Linked DNA regions of Homo sapiens: regions 1 and 3 are each linked to region 2. Evidence: fine-mapped expression QTL. A gene starts in region 2. Each other region holds a variant in brackets. All regions are shown on one strand. Distances are between the middles of the regions.

Region 1 (6,439 bases), 41 kb before region 2:
AACCTACACAGCGTTATCCAGGCCCAACTTCCGGTAGCTCCGAGAGAAGCCATGAGAGACAAGTCTCTTAGAGCCACAGAAGTAGACCTTCCAGAGCCCCAGTTTGTAAATGAACCTGTGTCACATTTGATAAACACTATCCTGGGCGCAGCCCCGGGCCACCGCCGAGTGACGCCAAAGCCCTGGTTGACTCTGACAGCCCCGTGGGTGTGTGGGAGGCCGGGCGCTCTGGGGTCTGTCTGTCAGTGCAATCGTTTAGTGTTTTTTCAGTGGGGCGGGGCGGGAAGCGGGTGGGACCGGGCAGCCAGTTCTCAAAGGCTGTGGGGCCGACTGGAGGCCACAGCCCCTCACCCCTAGACGTTGCCAACCAGAACTGACGTGTGACCTCCTGGGTGTTGATGCCATTAAAACCAACGTTGGTGCCCGGTGCTGCGGTCTCGTCTGGTCTTCTGCTGGGGCTCCCCCACCCGCTGTTGGGCCCAAGATGAAGAACCAAGGGGTGGGGGCGCACTCGGGAAGAGAGTAAGCGTGGGCCTCAGCTGCTTTGAAGGCAGAGGCTCTGCAGCTCCGCGTAGCGTGGGGTGGGGCTGAGACTCGCTGCTTCCGGGGCCCCCAGCAGTTTTCCTTGTCACCTCCCAGACCTCAGTGCCCTCCGGGCAGGATAAGGGAGCAGGGCCTGCGACACCTGAGAGCCAGATACATTTACTGCTGCCCCGCATCCCGGAGGGGCTGAGGTTTGTGAGCGCGGCTGGTGGCCCGGGCTGTTGCGTGATGGAGGTCCGGGAATGAACAAGGGGTCTCTGTCCTGGCTGGGGCTTAGACACCCACACCCCAGGAGGGTGGGCCAGGGCTGGAGCAGCCCACTGCCTGCCCTCGGGAGGTGGAGTTTCACCTGCAGAAACCAGCTTAGGTTTGCCACGACCCTCAGACCCAGTGTCCTCAGCGGCCCCTGACAGCATGGTCTTTGGCCCCAAGAAGTGTGTCCCTTTGAGTGTAAACAATAGGAACCTGGAGCTTAGTCCACAAAGACGTTCAGAGGCTCAGAGTCACAGTAGGGCCCCAACCAAGCCCGGAATGGAAGGCGGGTCTGCCTTGACCAAGGACTGTTCACTTTAATCTCCCTGCCAAGCCTCGGAATCTTGGGAGAGGGTCTGCTTGGCCGAACTTGGCTGGGGGACAACTGGGCTCTTGGATGGCAGGTCCTCCAGGACGACATTGTGAGAAGGGTTCTGTCAGGGACAGTGGCAGCAAGAACCGGGGTCTCCACAGGCCTATGAGCTTGGCAGGTGGCCTGCTCTGGGATCTCTGTCGTGCATGGCCCCTTCAGGTGGTGGCAGTGACTCGGATGGTTTTCACAACCTCAAGACCAAGGGAAGCCCCGCGGTGTGCGTCTGTGTGCCTCCCTTCCTCAGCCCCCCACACGGCCTCTGCCTGCAGCCTTGAACTGCTTAGCCTCAAACTGCTCGGCCCAGACCTTATGTCAGTTCTCAGGAAGTGCCTGTGGGCCACCCAGCTATGGTATGTGGCACTGTGCGTCATGGCTGTTCTGGGTGCTGGGAGTCCTAGGAAGGCCCCTGGAGAAGTGGGCTTAAGCTGAGCTCCCAGGAAGAGCAGATGTGTGTGAGGTGAGGGAGGCTGGCACTCAGGCAGCAGCAGCGTAGAGGCGTGGAGGGCGGGGTGAGGCACGGCCTGTTGTGGAGCCAGGTTACCAAGACTGGGGGGCCCTGGACTGGGGAGGCAGTACAGCCACTGAGGTTTCTGAGCAGGGAGAGCCAAGCCTGCCTGTTTTAGAATTCTCTAGAGGAGGCTGAAGCAGAAAGGGATCCCACGGTCTTGGGACATTGACATCCTGGCTTCTGGCTGGGAGACTGAGTAGCAGGAAGTGCCCACAAGGACACCTGATGGCTGCCCGTTTCCCGCCCTGTGCCTGGCGCTCAGCGAGCCCTCGGTCCTCCCGGTGAGGTGCATCCTGCCCCATGGAAGTGAAGGTACCTCCCCGGGCTAAAGGCTGGGCAGGTTCAAACCCATCTCTCTGACACGTGGCTAGGCCCCGCAGCCTGGGAGGTCAGTGCTTGTGGGGCAGGGCTGGGCTCTGCAATGTGGGGAGCCTGGGGAAGAACACCCTGGGCTGAGCGCCCCGCAACAGCCACTGGGCCCCCTGCATCCGCGCCCCATGCATCTGGTACAGGGGGCTGAGTGGGAGCACAGGTTCTGGGTGAGGGAGGCCGCCTGCAGGAGGCAGAACTCTGCACGTGGGTGGCTGTAGGTCAGGTCAGTGGTGTGGGCCCCGGTGAGTGTGGGGAACGGACAGACCTGTGCCAGGGCTGCCACCGAATCGCCCCCTCGACCTGCCACACTGCGAGACTGAGCGCTCCATGCTGGGCTGATCCCCTCTGAAGGCACAGGAATGGGGCAGGGGTACCCATTTTGAGCAGCGGAAAGGGGAGACCTTGGGGAAAGAGACAAGGGATGCTGGGGTGCCACGCTGCCGCCTCTGGGTTGTGAGGGGCAGTGGCCTCCTCCTGGACTCTGGCTAAAAGCCTGCTCCTTCAGGCCACCTGCTGGGAGCCCCAGGTCTGTGCATGCAGAAGGGAGGAAGCCGAAGGCAGGTAGCACAGGGTGTAGGACTCCTGTGCGGCTGGCCTGGGAGTTCAGGAAAATGCCACTTGGGAGCTTTTCTCCTGCAGCTCGTTCTAAGGGCCCATCATCTGTTGTCCCCGCCTGCCCCAGCAGGGCCAGAGCAGTCCTCAGGCCCGGCAGTGGTACCTCCCAGGTGGGCAGAGGGAGCCTGAGTCTGCCAGGCCACCGGCTGGGCCCTGCCTCAGGTGGGCCGGGCCTCCTCAACTGTCCCAGGCCAGGTTCCATGTCAGGCTCCAGGGAAGCCAGCTGAGGCGCAGCCCTCGCAAACTTCCTGCGGAAGGGGCTAGCAGCACCCCCCCAGCCCCACAGCATTCCCCAGCGTGGCACAGGTCACTGGCCTGGCCATTCGCAGCCCTGTCCTGCAGCTGTAGCCGAGCTCAGGCAGCACCAGAGGACTGGCTTGTGCTGTTCTTGGAATGAAGTTCACCGTGGAGGCAGGACTCACCCAGCTGCTGCCCGACAGAGGAACCACTGCTCCTCCCTGGCCCAGCTTCACAAAGCCAGACCCTGGGTTTGGGCCGCTGGGTGAAGATGGATCAGAGCCCACAGAGTAGATGTGAAGTTCCAGGTTAACATGGCCCATAGACAGCACAACAAGACCTGAAGCCC[CT/T]CACAGACAGCTGCGCCCTGACCAGCTTCCTCAGGTGTCTCCATGTGATATTCTGGAACACACAGGCACCACGATGCTGCGCCTGCAGGCCACACCTACGGAAGCGGTGCAGTGAAGGCAGGAAGCCAGCGAGGCCTGAGGGACAGGTGCGGGGAAAGCGAGGTTTTGTTCTAGAAGCCACTCCACGCCCTCCACAGATGCCATCACTACACTTCCTTCAGGGCTGGGTCTGATGAGAGCTCAGAGTGCAAAAGAAATGCTTTCCTTCTTGGCCCTTTCAAATCTCACCCCAGCACTGAACAAGGTCTAACCTTTGAATTTCAGATGTTAGAAATGTGGAAAGATGATCCAATTATAATAAGAGGAATGAAGTGAATTCTCCTGAGGTGGTGGAAATAGCTCAGGAACAGAAACCAAGAGATCTGAGTTTTTGTCCCAGTTCTGCCACTTGTGAGTCGATTAACCTTAGGCAAGTTAATTCACCTCTGGGCTGGTTACTGAGGGTACTGGCCAGAGGCTCCATAAGTCCCTTCCCCAGTGCCCTTTTGGGACTGTGCAGAACCCAGAGAGCCCTCAGTAACAAAACGGTACTCAAGCCTGCCTTCCACTGAAACCCTGGCTCCTGGAATACTCCCCTCACCAGCCATAATGCCATTACTGTCCCTTCCAGCTGCAGTCCAGCTGGAACCCAGTCTAGAGCCCGTTCTCAATTTCAGAAATGCCCCAAATCACGAAGAAGTGATGCGTGTTGGGCATATTCAGTCTCTGGTGGTCCGAAGGGCAATTATAGTCAAGAAACAAGTTGCACTTGCTGTGCCTGCGGCAGCCGGTACTCTGCAGAAAGGAAACCACCAAACCAAACCTATTATCCAAGTCACTGTGTCCACTGTTTTTGCAGAGTAATATTATCTGAGATAACTTCACAGTCAAGCTCTGATTGAATTGTTAGCAATGGCTTTATTTGCTGCTTTGTCAGGGCAAGAGAGTAACCGCTAGATGAGACTAAGTCAGCTTTCCACAAACATATTTTTGCAGTGTGTTAGCATTTGTGAAGAGGTAAACGTATTTTCTGGAAACAGAGTATACTTGCAGTTTTGTTCCTGACCAACAGTAGACCAATCAGCTGAGGTCTGAACCCTAATTATGTACCAGAATCGCCTTGAGTGCTTGTTAGCACAATTCTTGGGCCTCAGGAATCCACTGAGACTTTCTCAAAAGTTCCCCTAGAGACTAACTACTAGCATTTTATTCAATTTCTGGAGTGAGTTCTGGATGCTTACATCACATCCCTTTGTACTGTTTGAAATCCTTCCCACAGAAGACACCTCACACACGCACAACAGTGCCACACTTAAGCCAACACCACAGGAAAAATCTCCTTCTAAAACTCCTTGACCAAATATCTTGCTTTACCTACATGGCTGACTTTTGAGTACGGCAGTCTTGGGCTTATGGCACTTCCCTGGAGGCCTGTTAATCACAATCACTAGCAGGACACAGTGGCTCACACCTGTAATCACAGCACTTTAGGAGGCCAAGGCAGGAGGCTTGCTGGAGCCCAAGAGTTCAAGGATGCAGTGAGTTATGATTGCACCACTGCACTCTAGCCTGGGGGAAAGAGTGAGACCCTGTCTCAAAAAACAAAACCCACACTAAAAGCATTGCTACAAAGTAAAGAAACAAGCAATTCAGGATGAATGACAAGCAGCCAGCACTATTTTCTAGACAATTCCAAAATATTTTGATTAAAGCATAATCTTGTCTCACAAACACCTGGCATGTGGATCAACATTAAAATGTTCCCCACCCTAGACTGCACTTAAACCTAGTGGCATAGCCTACTACACACCTAGGCTGTATGGTAGAGCCTATTACTCCTAGACCACAAACCTGGACAGCACGTTACTATACTGAATACTGTCGGCAACTGTAACACAATGGTATTTGTGTATCTAATTACAGTAGAAAATACATTATAATTGTATGGGACCACCATAGTATATGCAGTCTTTGACATGTAATAATGCACAGCTGTGTATCAAAATGCTAACCATGTGATGGCATGTGGTAGGACAATGTATAATTTCCCTTTTCTCTATTTTCTAAATTTTAAATGTGAATTTATAATTTTGTATAATATTTATTACACTTATAGTGTAATAAACATTGAAAACGTTCCCAACTTTTACACCAACTTTCTTATTCACCAGAGGGAGTTGTGACTTTTTTTTTTTTTTTTGAGACAAGGTCTTGCTCTGTCATCCAGGCTGGAGTACAGTGGCACGATCTCAGCTCACCTCCTGGGCTCAAGTGATCCTCCCACCTCAGCATCCAAAGTAGCTGGGACTACTGACGTGCACCACCACACCCGGCTAATTTTGTTTATTTTTAGTAGATGAGATCCCACTATGTTGCCCACGCTGATTGTCAAACTCCTGGCCTCAAACTATCCTCTTGCCTCGGCCTCCCAAAATGCTGGGATTACAGGAGTGAGCCACCACACTCAGCCAACCTTAACTCTTAATTATTGGAAATACCCAAACCTCAATGCCTTACCCCATATGGAAGGCAAAATCCTGTATTCCCAATTCACACATGAAAATTACACGAGAGGTAAGTCAAAAATGCTTCCTTTATTACATAAAGCCAATACTGCTACTTCTAAGTTCAACTGTTTGTGCATCTCTATATCGTTCAAAGTGTTACGCCCGTGATATTAACAATGACCGCTTCCAAGTGTCAGTGAACAGTGGCTCCCTGTGAGTGTCATCATGGTACCTCTCCCCATTGCACACAAGTCAACAAACTGCTCTAGAAAGTTAAGTTCTCCCAGGCCCAGAGTAAACATATACTCAATATTCTTCCATACTTTATTATACCATAAGAAGCAAACTTCTGAAGGAGATACAATTAAAGATACCACAGGTGTCCTAGCTTGTCAATATTCTGTTTTATCATTTTCATTAACAAAGCAGATTACAATGTAGCCCTAATTTGCATTATAATTAGTTGTTACAAGACACTGCACATTCTCCTGAAGACACACAATGATTTCCAAGATGCCAGGTCACTCTTCCAATCAGTGAATGGCGAGCTCACTGGCAGGTGCAGGGCTACTTCCTGTATTCCAATGATGTGCCTGAAATAGCGCTTTGCAAGATGAGCGTGGATTATGTGGACACAATTTTG
Region 2 (6,439 bases):
TGAATAAAATCATCTCCTTAACCAGCCAGGATATTATGTCTTTGACACAGGAATGGTTATAACTCTAGGGAGGGAAGGGAGTGGGATGAGGAAGATGATGCATATTTAGCTGTAATGATAACATAAAAACCTGAAATATGGCAATAAGATAGCCCTGTTTTTCCTGTACAAAAGGATCTGTTATTCTGTGTACTTTTCTGCTTAAAATGTTTCAAAATTATTATTTTAAAACTTGGAGTTGGAAAAGGTGATTTGTCTCAAGTCAATTAATCCTTTACAATCTGTTTTCTCATATGTTAAATAGGCATGTGAATACATGCCCAACCTATTTCACTGGGTTGTAGTGTTTTTGCTAATCACCAAGTATTAGAATACTTGAATACTGCGCCAATTAGTTCAGTCTGTGAGACCACAGTCCAGATTAGGATAAGGTTAAGGGTTAGATTATCGTGCAAACCTTTTAACTCTACTTCAGGGGCAAGACTACACTCTTACTTTCCAAGAAGCATAAAAGATACTCTGGTTACAAGAGGAGCTAGGCAAGTCTAGGTGTGATGTCTCAATCCATATCCAGTAGAACTACTGAGCAAATAACCTTAGTAACTTGATGATGGGCTACTAAACAATCTCTGTATAAGGAGGCTGGCACACCCAGTACACACACACACACGTTTTGTTTGGGGTCTGTAATTGTGGTTCACGTGGAGGCAGACGTTGTTTGTTTTTTGTTGGAGGAGACATCTGAAAACATCTAATCTCATCCTGAAGCGCCCAGCTGGTTTCAAACTGCTTTATTTCAGGTGCTTCTAAAAGACTTGGTGAGTACAAGGAAGTGATTCTGCTAATTTAGAACAAACCCATCGGTAGTTAAAATTTAATCTTAAAAGAAACTTGGAACCAAGCATCTAACCAAAAGAGCTAAAAGCAAAGTGCTAGACTCTGGGATAATACCCACAATATTCTCTAATCACTGAACTAAACAAAGATGCTCCTGCGCTCATAAGGCTAAAAACAAAAATAACCTTTAAAAATGGGGGGTCTATAATCTGAACTCTAAGAGTAACTTGTAAGGTCTTCTTGATCTCCCTAAAGCCAACAATTTTGAAGCGTATTTGGAAATCGCTCATTTCTAATTTTTATTTCTCCCACTCCTCACAAGAACCAGGAAATATAACAGACCCTTCCTTCCTTGAATTTAGTTAAGCTTTAACTAAAACTAAGCATTTAACTAAAGGTAAAATGTTTGGTCTCTTATTTTCAAACAGAAAAATAAAGTCTGTATTAGCCACTCAATAAAAAAGCATAATGTCAAATCAGAAGTCTCTAGAGCAGACCCTAGTCAGCTTCAAAGCACTTTCACAGAGTGAATGGTCTTAAGCGTACCATAACTCAAAGCCCCTAGATTAAGTCTTTCAGTATAAAGTAGCATATACATTTAAAATGTTATTAAATTTCTAATAATTAGATATTAAAAAGACTCAAGATGCTGATACTTTGTAGCTTACAGCATTAAACCAAAGAAGAACCAAAAACTGAACAGTATCAAATCCCTATTACATACATATCTACAGTCATCAAGAAACTACCGGTTTATCTTTTCTTTCACTAAGGGGCCGCCTGCATGTTCACGGAAGTTGTAGTAACTTAAGAAAACCAAAACTGTTATACAGTGAAAACAGTTTGTATGCAGATAAGCTGGTACCAACTGCTTCTAGACAGATGCAATTACAGTGTAATATTTCTAGCAAAGTCTGGTAAGGCTACGCCTGCAAATCACTGACCAAAAATGGTAACAGTGTGTGCACACTAACGAAAACGACAAAATGTTCCAACTGATAGTTCAGTTGAGAATACGTTTTTAAATAGCTAATTAGAGTGACAGTGTAAAGGGGGAAAATATGTAAATTAAGCAAAATGTCCATCATATAGAATATACTAATGAGCACCTGTTTACTTTCTGGTGACTCCAGTATTTTAATGGTTTTTAAAGCTCTTAAATTTGGTTGTATCAGCATCCCAGCATCATGCCCACACCTTGCGCACCAAGTTCTGGCAGAGTCCAACTGTCTACAGGTCAGAAAAAAAATTCTAACCATACACGGACAGATCGGGCAGGGAAGGGTTAAAACAGACACTGCCAAGCTTGACAAGCACGACGAGAGTGCTGCTGGAAGCCGATTGCCAGATAAAAAGAAAAAAACAAAGGAGCTGCAAGGCCACCCCGTTCTAAATCATGCCAGGATCCTGCTCGTTAGCGATCATTCCGTGCTCTAGGACTGTTCCATAAAGGCTTTATCTTCCTTATTGAGATGGACAGACCTCAAGGGCTGGAACGCGCACAAGTCACCAAGCGCCTCAGCGCCAGCTCTGGGGAAACCCACGCCAACAAGGACGGTGGCCGGATTCCGACGCCCCCCGCCCCCCACTCCCCGGCCTCGGTGTGCAGACCCCCGGATGGATTTCACAGAGCGGGTGGGGGCGCTCGACCCCAGCCAGTTGTTGCAAGGCCGGGTCTGGAGACACCCGCAGAGGCCACGCTCAGGGCGGCGGCCTCGCCCCAGCTGGGAGCTGCGCAACAGCCGCGGATCCACCCCGGGGCGCGGGGGCCCAGCCAGGACGGCGGGAGACGGAGGCCCAGAGACCCCCCCTCACCCGCAGCCCGGACACTGCAGCCGGACCGGGTCCCTCCCCGGGCTGAGGCACGGCTCACCCCCTTAGCCCCGACTCCGCGGCGCCCCAGAGACACACTGCTCCCGGCCGCCTCGGCCCACGCCTCGGCCTCCCTCCTACTCACCATCTTCGCCGCGGCGGTCGCAGGGACGCGGGGGAGGGAGCCGGCGGGCAGCGAGTATGCAGACCGTCCTCCTCACGGCTGCGGGACCGAGAGACCCAGCGCTGAGCTGACGCGGCGGCGCGAGCTTACCCCGGGGCGGGCGCGCCTCAGGACGGAACGCGGCTGCGCACGTCACGCACCGCCTGCCGTTGCTACGCAACCAGCCGGCCAGGCAACGCCCCCCCGGCGGCTATCCAGAGTCTCGGAGGGGAGCTTCCCTCATCTGCTGAAGGCTGCGGGGCAGGGTCCGCCTCACCAGAAAGTGTTTAGGGGTGGGGGTGCGTCCTCTCTGGTCTGCAGGAGGCTAGAAGGCGGACTGGGCTGGCTCCTGCTGGCGAGGGGCGGGCAAAAGATGATGGGGGAGGGGTGGCCTTCCTTCGCCTCCTCGGCGGGGCCACCTGACGCCCCACCCACTGTGCAGGCATGGCCCGCGCGGGGAGGCAGCCACCTGGCCAGGTGTGCCTGCCGCTGGGGCGGGGCGAGGCCGTGGAGGGGAAAAGGAGGGGAGAGCCGGGGGAGAGGGGTACAGAGTGTGGGAAGGAGGGGGATTTGGAGGGGAGAGGCGAGGGGCACATAGTTGGGGGAGGAGGAGGATGGAGAGGGGAGGGAAGAGGTGAGGGAGAGGGGACAGTGTGGGGAGAGGAGGGGGATGTGGGGGGAGGGGCGAGGGGGCACTTAGTGGGGGAGGTGGGGGCAAGGGGAGAGGTGAGGGAGAGGGACACAGTGGTGGAAGGAGAGAGATGTTGGGGGTTGGGAGGGCAGGGCCCGAGGAGGGGGAACGCACTGGGGGAGGACCCACGGGAGCGGAGTCGCGGGCCGCGGCAGCGGGGACGCCTCCCGCATTTTTTACCTACTTTGGTGCGATTCCCGCCGCCCTCCCCTGATTGGCCCAGTCTGGCTTGTCCTGCCCTCGCGTGAGGGGAAAAAAGTCTGCACATTTTTCCTCCTTCCCGAGGCGACCGTGGCCATGCAGAGTGCTCTGTGAGTCACCGTTAATTTCAGGTCTGGAAAAACAAGGAGCATTTATTTATCTTTGGGAACTGCCGGGGAAGGAGGCCGGCGGCGCGCAGGGGTGTGGCTGGGAAAGGCCGCGCTGTCCCGGGACGGTGGCGCCAGCCCCGCCGCTCAGTTCTCCGGGTTTTTAATTTGGAATTGTGTTTTTCTAATGGGCGGTTGCGTCGGAAACACGGTTTTCAGAGGGCCCAGATGAATCCCAGCGTTTTTGCTGCGGGTGTTTTTGTGGGAAATAAAGGGAACAAAGAATTTTATAAATTAATTTAGGTTACCGAGAACATCATGGCCTCGACCAAAACTATTTTAATTCTCCAAATATGAGACTTTTGGACAAGATGGTCAGTATTTTTTTTTCCGGCACTACGTAAAATCTAGGTTGTATGTGGCTTTTGTTCTGCCCCACTCAACATAGGAACCCATTTCTCATTACCCTCGTTCTTTTTAAAAAAGACAGTAAGTTGTGCAGTTCTAAGCCTTTACCACCTGAGACATGATTTTTGGCGGGCTAGAGCAGTGGTTCTTTAGCATGCATCAGAATCACCTGGAAAAGTTGTTCAAAGCTAGATTTGTGTGCCCCATCCCCAAGGTTCCCTCACTGCTTCTAAGATGATGCTTGAGAATGGGCATTTCTAACAACTCCTAGGTGATGCTGAAGATGCCAGTCCGAGACCACACTCCTGAACTGAGAAGGAACCCCCCTGTATCCTCCTGCAGCTGGAACCCTTTGCTTTTCTGCCTGCCTAGGACCCTGTGGCCCTTACACTTCTTAATATTCAGACTTCCTTTCTAGTCCAAAAGTGAATGGTGCTCATTTAAGGATACATGCCTGCCTGCTTGCTCCAGCCTCTCCTGCATTTCGTCCTCCACTCTGCCACCAGAGTTAGGTCCAAACATAAGACTGGTCTTGTTACATTCTTGCTTAAAATTTGCTGTGGCTTCCTCCATAACCCTCAGCAGGTCAGTCTGGCCCGTCTGCCTCTGGCCTCAGCCTACTTTTTCTGCCCTATCTCCCATATCTTCCTAAGTGCCCACTGCCCCTCCCAGACGAAACTTCTCATTCCAGAACACCTCTTACTAGTTCTAACTACCTTGATCATGGGCCTGCTTATTTTTTCAGCCTGGGATGTTCCTATCACCCTTCGCATCTGAAGACTTCTCTTACCACTTCCCAAGGATCAATAGTAGTTCCTTCTTTTTTTTTTTTTCGTGCCCCGTACCCCTTACAACTCCTTCACCCCCCTAGTTCCTTCTATAATCCCAGAGTTCATCACTTCTCAAATCTTTTTTTTTTTTTTTTGAGACTGAGTTTCACTCTTGTTGCCCAGACTGTAGTGCAATGGTGCGATCTCGGGTCACTGCAACCTCCGCCTCTCGGGTTCAAGCGATTCTCCTGCCTCAACCTCCCGAGTAGCTGGGATTACAGGCATGCGCCACCACACCCGGCTAATTTTGTATTTTTAGTAGAGATAAGGTTTCTCCGTGTTGGTCAGGCTGGTCTTGAACTCCCGACCTCAGGTGATCTGGCCACCTTGGCCTCCCAAAGTGCTGAGATTACAGGCCTTAGACACCGAGCGCCCGGCCACCTCTCAAATCTTAATAAAGATCCAAATCACCTGAGATCCTTGTTAAACTGCAGATTCCGGGGTTGAGGGGTGGAGTCTTAGATGGCCCCAGGAGATGCAGATGCTATACTTTGAGTTAGGAGGTTTCATGGTTTTTTCCCTACAATTACTGTAGCTCTGTAATTATTTATGTGCATTTTCCATTACTACCAGATAGCTGGGAGTTCCTTGAGGTCATGGGGTATTTAAGATGCGTATGTATGAACTGGCATAGCCCCTGATACATAGTAGGTGTTTAATAAGTATTGAATAAGTGAACCAGTATCTGAAGATGTTTTACAATTTATCAAACTTATATATCAGTTTATCATAACTTAAGATGAGCCCCCATTTTTTTTAGGTCCCACTGAACTTCAGCCTCTGCATTTAACACCCAGCTTTTCTAGACATTGACATTCCTCCTCTCCACACGGAGGGAAAGAGTTTTCATACAATGCTATAGACTAATAAAGATTTATGCCCTCCGGAAGCTGAAAGGTAATCCCCAATGTGATGGTATTTGAAGTTGGGGCCTTTGGACAGCGATTAGGCCATGAGAGCAGAGCCCCCTTTAATAGGATTAGTGCCCTTATAAAAGAGGTCCTAGGCCGGGCACCGTGGCTCACACCTGTAATCCCAGCACTTTAGGGGGCTGAGGCAGGTGGATCACGAGGTCAGGAGTTCAAGACCAGGCTGGCCAAGATGGTGAAACCCCGTCTCTACTAAAAATACAAAAATCAGCCAGGCGTGGTGGCAGGCACCTGTAATCTCAGCTATTCAGGAGGCTGAGGCAGGGAATTGCTTGAACCCAGGAGGCAGGGGCTGCAGTGAGCTGAGATCGTGCCACTGCACTCCATCCTGGGCAACAGAGCGAGACTGTGTCTCAAAAAAAAAGAGGTCCTAGACTACTGCTTGCCACTTCCACCATTGTGAGAACACAGCAAAAAGGTTCATCTATGAACCAGGAAGTGGGCTCTCACCAGACACTGAA
Region 3 (6,439 bases), 110 kb before region 2:
CTCCCACTGCCCCGCCTCCCTCCTCACACTCCTTGTTTGATTTAACTTCCTGTTAATCCGACACCTAGAGAAATCTGTGACCCTGCAGCATGTCACTTACTGTGTGATGTCTTGACTCGTTTACGAACTTGCCAAAGGTCACTCCCACTATCATATGCCAACCTCTTTCCCTTCCAGAAAGAAGCTTCCGGTTCTGAGGTCCTGGAGGTGCCATTTCCCTCTCTGTTGAAGCAAAGGCCGGGGCAGACCTCCTAGTAGGTGAAGTTTTCCTTTTACATGGAGCACCGCAAAGCCGGCTTGCAGGGATCTTGGGCCAGTGGAGGCCTGGAGGAGGCTAAGGTTGGGGGAGGGGAAACCAGAAAGGGATCTTGGGGTTTAGGAGAGGGTTTAGAGCTCTAGGCACTATAACAACTCTCACCTTTCATACTTAGGAATCTGCCTCTGAACATTTACAGAGAGATTAAGAAGTTACAGTGGTTCATGGTATATGAGTATTTTTTGGTGATGGAAGAGTTTTAAATAAATCTTAAATCAAGTCACATTTGAGCAATTATGCTCTTTAATGAAATGAGCCCTAACTCAACAGGCTGCAATAATTACATAGCAGCAAACTCAGTTTAAATGGTTGAATGCCAGTGATTGAATTGGAGTATTGATTTATTATGTAGCAGGGACACCTTTTAAAAGTGTCGGGACCCCAGACTCTTCTTGTCTTTTTAGCCCTGGGAATTTTAACTAATAGATGAATGACACATAGAGGATCAACAGTTCTGTTGAGACAGCAAGTTTTTCTTTGCTAAAATCTTGTTTCAGGAGAAACAAAAATAATGGTCAAGTCAGAATGATGAAGGCAGGGACTGTGCTGTCCGTCTGTGCATGCTGGGCCTGCAGTGGTTAAGGCCTGGCCTATAACATCATAAATATTGGTTATACCAGGCGGACAGCGCCCCCATACCTGTTAAACTATTCCCAGCTGTCTCATTGGATAAATGAAGCTTAGCCCAACTTGGTTTTTAAGGTTCACTTTTTAGAATCAGATTCCACAACTGTGGTTTACATTTAGGCCTTAAAATAACCCTGTTCTAGGGGGTGGGAATGGTTGTCACCCATTCAGTGGATGAGAATGTGGAGGTCCAGCTGGTCAGAAGGTTGTCAGGCCAGTTCCTGTTGCCCAGTTGCTAGGCGATGTGGGCCCGGCCTTCCAAATGTTCCCTCCTGGCTATATACCTCCACCTTCCTGGGGCAATAATTACCCAAGGGAGGACACAGAACGTGAAGATCAAAATTAAGAGCTTCAGTGGCAGGAAGGTGGGGAGGCATTTTGAAAATCTGGCAGTGCTGAAGGTATTTTTCATTTCATTTTTTTCACCGAGGGTCTCCTGTGTGGTGGGCCTTCAAACACCGCAAGTGAGACCTAGTTCTTGCCTGAAAAAGCTACTGTCTAGAACTGTGTTGTCCAATACAGTAGCCACAAGTAGCAATTTAAGTTTAAAACAATTCAAATTAAGTAAAATTAAAAATTCAATTTCTGAGTCAAATTAGCCACATTTCAGGTGCTCAGTAGTCATAAGTTGGTCAGCGTGGCTGTAGATGGTTTCCACCATCACAGAAAGTTCTAGACAGTGCTGATGTAGAGGCAGCTGGTATTCTGTAAACATTCATGTCCCTGTTCCTCTTGATCATGTGGTAATATGTTGAACCACATGAAATTGCCCATTCTGTAGGTCAAAACCAGTTGACTAGTGGCAGTTGATACACTTCACCTGATAAGATCTCACCCTGAGAAAGCATTAGTCCCGCCTCTTTGTGTGCATTGTAAACTGCATTCCAAGAAAAAGGAGTGGGAGGGGGGCCACACAGATAGTGGCCCTTTCCTGGAGAGATTTTTTACCCAATGCCCTCAGCATCAAAATGGTGACTTGTAACAAAGACAGAAAATAAATTGATATTAGGTAGAAAGTGATGGCTTGTAAGGGAAGGTAAATATTTAATTTTAAGTGACAGTGCCTAGGCAAGGAGGCACTCTCACTTAGCATATAGAAAATTAGTTCAGGGGCCTCCTAGGAGACTTTTCTTAGGCAGACAAATTCTGGCCGAGTCTCCTGAAGCAGACAACCAGACACCCCCAAAACCAGACGTGTGTGTCCTTTATGTGCATTCAGTAACATGTGTCTTCCACCTGTCAACAATGGGCAGCAACTTTAACTTATCAAGAACATTTTGTGATTTCTAACTTAGATTTTTTTGGCAAGACTAGAATACCTGCCCAGTCCCGAAACCTTTTCAGTTCCAAAGTATTGGAGTTCCAGTGTTCTTGGGTGGCATAAATTGCTTCCTACACCAGTGACTATTTACACAGCTCTGTTATTCTCCATATAACTTTTTTTTCTTTTTCTTTTTTCTCTTTTTTTTTGAGACAAAGTTTCGCTCTTGTTGCCCAGGCTGGAGTCCAATGGCGTGATCTTGGTTTACTGCAACTTCTACCTCCCGGGTTCAAGTGATTCTTCTGCCTCAGCCTCCCAAGTAGCTGGGATTACAGGCATGCGCCACCACACCCGGCTAATTTTGTATTTTTAGTAGAGACGGGGTTTCACCATGTTAGTCAGGCTGGTCTAGAAGTCCTGACCTCAGGTGATCTGCCCTCCTCGGCCTCCCAAAGTGCTAGGATTATAGGCATGAGCCACCGTGCCCGGCCTCCATATAACTTCGAAAGGATCATTGGGCAGTACTGGGGAATAATTTTTGAATTCTTGGTTGTACTTGTGGGCTCATCTTAGTATTAGTACTCTGTAAAGAATAATATAAAACCAAAGTTTAACTTTAAAGGAAGAAGCTGAATGATGGACAGCTACTTGATCTCTTTCTGGTCAGAAAGGAGGCCCACTAAGACTACTGGAAGTTACAGACTATTTATAGTGATAATGAATATCATCTGCTGACTCAAAAGTTGGAATAAAAGACCATCTTGAATTCAAATCTTTAATTCTCTATCCTGGGCAAGGTATAAGCAAACAAGGTCTGTTAGGGTATAAGCAAACAAGGTCTGTTAGGCTGTCTTGAGAGGAATTCCAAACTGGTGCCCTGTGTGAGCTGAACTTGGCCTTCACATGGAATTTGTTTCACTGACCTCATGTTATTAAGCAATTGAGTCACCTTTTAAAAGTGGAATTTTTTTTTTTTTTT[TC/C]ACTAAAATCTAGATTTTTTGGGCTGGGCACAGTGGCTAATCCCTGTAATCCCAGCACTTTGGGAGGCCAAGGCGGGTGGATCGCTTGAGCCCAGGAGTTTGAGACCAGCCTGGGCAACATGGCAAAACCCCATCTCTATAAAGAATGCAAAAACTAGCCAGGCATGGTGGCATGTGCCTGTAGTCCTGGCTACTCAGGTGGCTGAAGCAGGAGAATCATTTGAACCTGGAAGGTGGAGGTTGCAGTGAGCCAAGATCATACTACACTCCAGCCTAGGCGACAGAGTGAGACTCTGTCTCATAATAAAAAACAAAAACAAAATCTAGATTTTTGGGTTCTCTGGGGGAAAATGGGAATTTCTGGCTACACTAGGTTGACTTTCTTGTGTGGCAGCCGTGGACTGTGTTTGTCCTCTCTAAGCTGGGCCTGTGCTCTCAGTGCCCAGCATCCTACCCCAATATATGTTATGTGCTTGGGTATTGGCAGTCCCTCAGGGTGCTGGGGGCTGTCCGGTGTGACCGGACTAGTCATCAGCTTGTCCCACGGAGCTGCTGTGTGGAGCAGTGGGAGAAGCACTGGTTGGGTGTTCTGATCCCTGGAGTGAGTGAGTGACTTTGGACATGACTTCTCCTCCCTGGGCTTCAGTTTTCTCCCTCCTATAAAATGAAACTAGGCCAGCTAGCTCCACCTTTCAGGCCACAAACCTCGGTTTATCCTTAACTCCTCGCCGTCTCATACCTGTACCCTGTACGCAGCAGGTCCCATCAGCTCTACCTTCCAGACAGAGCCAGTGTGACCATTCTCACCACTTCTGCCTTCTCCCTGGTCCAAACAGCTCTTACCTTTTGATTTTTTATTTCTGAGAGGGTCTTGTTCTATCACCCAGGCTGGAGTACAGTGGCGCAATCACTGCTCACTGCAGTTACAACATTGCAGGCTCAGTTAATCCTCCTGCCTCAGCCTCCTGGGTAGCTGGTACCACAAGTGCATGCTACCACACCCAGTGAATTTTTAGGTTTTTTTGTAGAAATGGTGTCTTGCCACGTTGCCCAGGCTAGTCTTGAACTCCTGGGCTAAAGGAGTCCTCCTGCCTTGGCCACCCAAAGTGCCAGGATTGTAGGCGTGAGCCAGCATGCCCAGCCTGCTCTCACCTCTGCCCCGGGTTATTTCTCTAGCCTCTGGTGGGCTCCCTGCCTTTGCCTATACCCCCTGCCTTCTAGTCTGTTGCCAGAGCAGACCATGTCACTCCTCTGTTCAAGACCCTCCTTGGTCAAGGTCTCCAGTGGCCTCTCAGGGCACTTTCGCTCTAGCTTCACTCCTACCATCTCCCTGTCCTCTGCTGCAGCCACGGTGGCCTCTGTTCCTCAGGCATGCTTCTGCCTCCGGGCCTTTGCGTCTACTTTGGCATATCCCTAAGAGCTTTTCCTTAGATGGCACATGGCTGGCTCCCTCATCTCCTTCAGGCCTGTTGGCTACCCTGTGTGGAGTGTCAGCCTCTGACGCTCTCCCACCCCCACTCCCTGCCCCCCTTCTCTGCATCACTTTCTCTTCATCACCCCCTGACATGTCCCGTATTTGACTGACTTTGTCATCTCCCCCTCTGAAGCGTAAGCTCTACCAGTGCAGGGATGTAGCTTTTGTTTCCTGAGGTATATCCAGTGTCGAGGGCAGTGACTAGCATGCAATAGGTGCCCATTCTTGCTGAGCTAATGGAGATGATTTTGTAGCACTGGCGTTCTGCGAGTATATCATGTAGCCTGAAGGAGTCTGGATTCCTAGAGCATCACATATAAACACAAAAACATATTCCAGAGCCAAATGCAAGTGAAGTTTGGATTACCTCCAGCCTGCCTCCAGTTGAGAAATTGACAGTCACATGCAGAGGGCACTGTTAAATGTGGACATCCTGCCCTTCCAGCGGAGGCTGGGGTTTGAAGTGAACCTTAGGAGACGATGTGGATGTTGGCTCTCTCCTGGGAGCCCTCAGTCTCCAGCCTGGTTAGATTCATCCCAGTGTCTCTGGGAGTCCATCATGCATGGCACCTTGACAGAACTGGGCCCTTCCCAGGTGCTTGCACCAGTTCTGGGGAGGAGACTTGGCTGTGAGCATCCTTTAATTCCTTGTATAACCAATGAGTGTGAGGTGGGCCTTGCAGAGTCACTGAGCATTTCAGTGACGACACACTCACCAGGAAACAGAACATTTGTTTTGGGTGTGAACAGTGTGCTGGCTGCTCTGAAAAGAGGTAGATTTTGTGTTTAGTGGGCAAGAATGTTCCTTAGGGGGAGAAGGGAGAATTCTTTTTTTTTGAGAGGGAGTCTCGCTCTGTCTCCCAGGCTGGAGTGCAGTGGTGCATCTCAGCTCACTGCAAGCTCTGCCCTCAGGTTCATGCCATTCTCCTGCCTCACCCTCCTGCTGGACTACAGGCGCCCACCACCAAGCCCAGCTATTTTTTTGTATTTTTTTTAGTAGAGACGGGGTTTCACCATGTTAGCCAGGATGGTCTCGATCTCCTGACCTCGTGATCCACCTGCCTCGGCCTCCCAAAGTGCTGGGATTACAGGCTTGAGCCACCGAGCCTGGCCGGGAGAATTCTTATAGTTGGCATTACATTTTGTTTTCTCTTGGTCAGTCCTCATCGTGCTAGGAAGTGAGGGAGGGGTCAAGGTTCCTCTCCTGCCTCACCTCATGGTGATGTTCTTTTCTCAGAGGAATTTTGTGTGGCAGTCCACTAAGTAGGAGGAGCAATGGCTGAGGCAGGGTGGTCTGGTTGGGAAGAGGCAATACTACGTCCAGCCCCATCCTTTGTTTCTCCTCTTCTCTCCTGTTGATTTTAGGTGAAGAAGAGTAGATACTAGATTTCTAGCCCTTTCTAACGGGAATGTCTGACCTACTCATTTTACTTGGAAAGGTGAAAGACCCTTGTTCAAACCCAGGTGGTGTGTTTTTTTGAAGTTCTCATTCAGTGATTAAAGTGTGCAACTCAACTGCATTAAATTGGTTTTTAATTAAGTCTGATCCTGAATAGGAATTAGATGTAGCTTTAGTTTTATGAATACATTTTTATTTCCTTGGTAGTTCTAGGTATTTGTAGTAATTAGAAAGGAAAGTCTTAATTTTCAGAATAGTAATCACAGTGATTGAGGGGAGGAAGGAGTCAATGCTGAAGAATAAATGAATTATTGAGACTCTTAATGAAAAAAGTCTTATTGGTAATGTGTCAAAGGACTCTTAAAAGGTCAACTTTAGCCAC

Which allele goes with the higher level. Alleles are on the strand shown, and positions count from the first base shown. SD is a standard deviation of normalised expression in the study named. Not every link is listed here.
In carriers of allele C in region 3, the expression in B cells of the gene that starts at base 2,931 in region 2 tends to be lower than with TC alone (small effect, 0.30 SD a copy in Fairfax 2012).

What was found. PIP is the estimated chance that this variant, and not a neighbour inherited with it, causes the effect.
Region 1: its variant is the best candidate, but not a certain one, in a credible set for the expression of DSTN in whole blood (TOPMed, PIP 0.70).
Region 3: its variant is the best candidate, but not a certain one, in a credible set for the expression of DSTN in B cells (Fairfax 2012, PIP 0.69).

Annotation. Positions count from the first base shown.
Region 1 is chr20:17,607,668-17,614,106 of GRCh38, reverse strand. It overlaps DSTN (destrin, actin depolymerizing factor), which reads right to left. Exons shown (of 4, transcript NM_006870.4): 4 at 4,188-6,439. RRBP1 (ribosome binding protein 1) reads left to right here. Exons shown (of 25, transcript NM_001365613.2): 25 at 1-428. Among named protein-coding and RNA genes, the nearest start is that of DSTN, 41 kb to the right of the region's middle. RefSeq lists enhancers at 1-193, 1,642-2,365. The variant CT/T (reference allele first, on the strand shown) is at 3,250.
Region 2 is chr20:17,566,567-17,573,005 of GRCh38, reverse strand. DSTN (destrin, actin depolymerizing factor) reads right to left here and starts at 2,931. Exons shown (of 4, transcript NM_006870.4): 1 at 2,795-2,931. The coding sequence starts at 2,797. It also overlaps a transcript of BFSP1 not described here. RefSeq lists silencers at 2,491-2,780, 2,801-2,990 and an enhancer at 3,401-3,968.
Region 3 is chr20:17,673,814-17,680,252 of GRCh38, reverse strand. It overlaps RRBP1 (ribosome binding protein 1), which reads left to right. Exons shown (of 25, transcript NM_001365613.2): 2 at 178-254. Among named protein-coding and RNA genes, the nearest start is that of RRBP1, 5.2 kb to the left of the region's middle. RefSeq lists an enhancer at 1-717. The variant TC/C (reference allele first, on the strand shown) is at 3,184.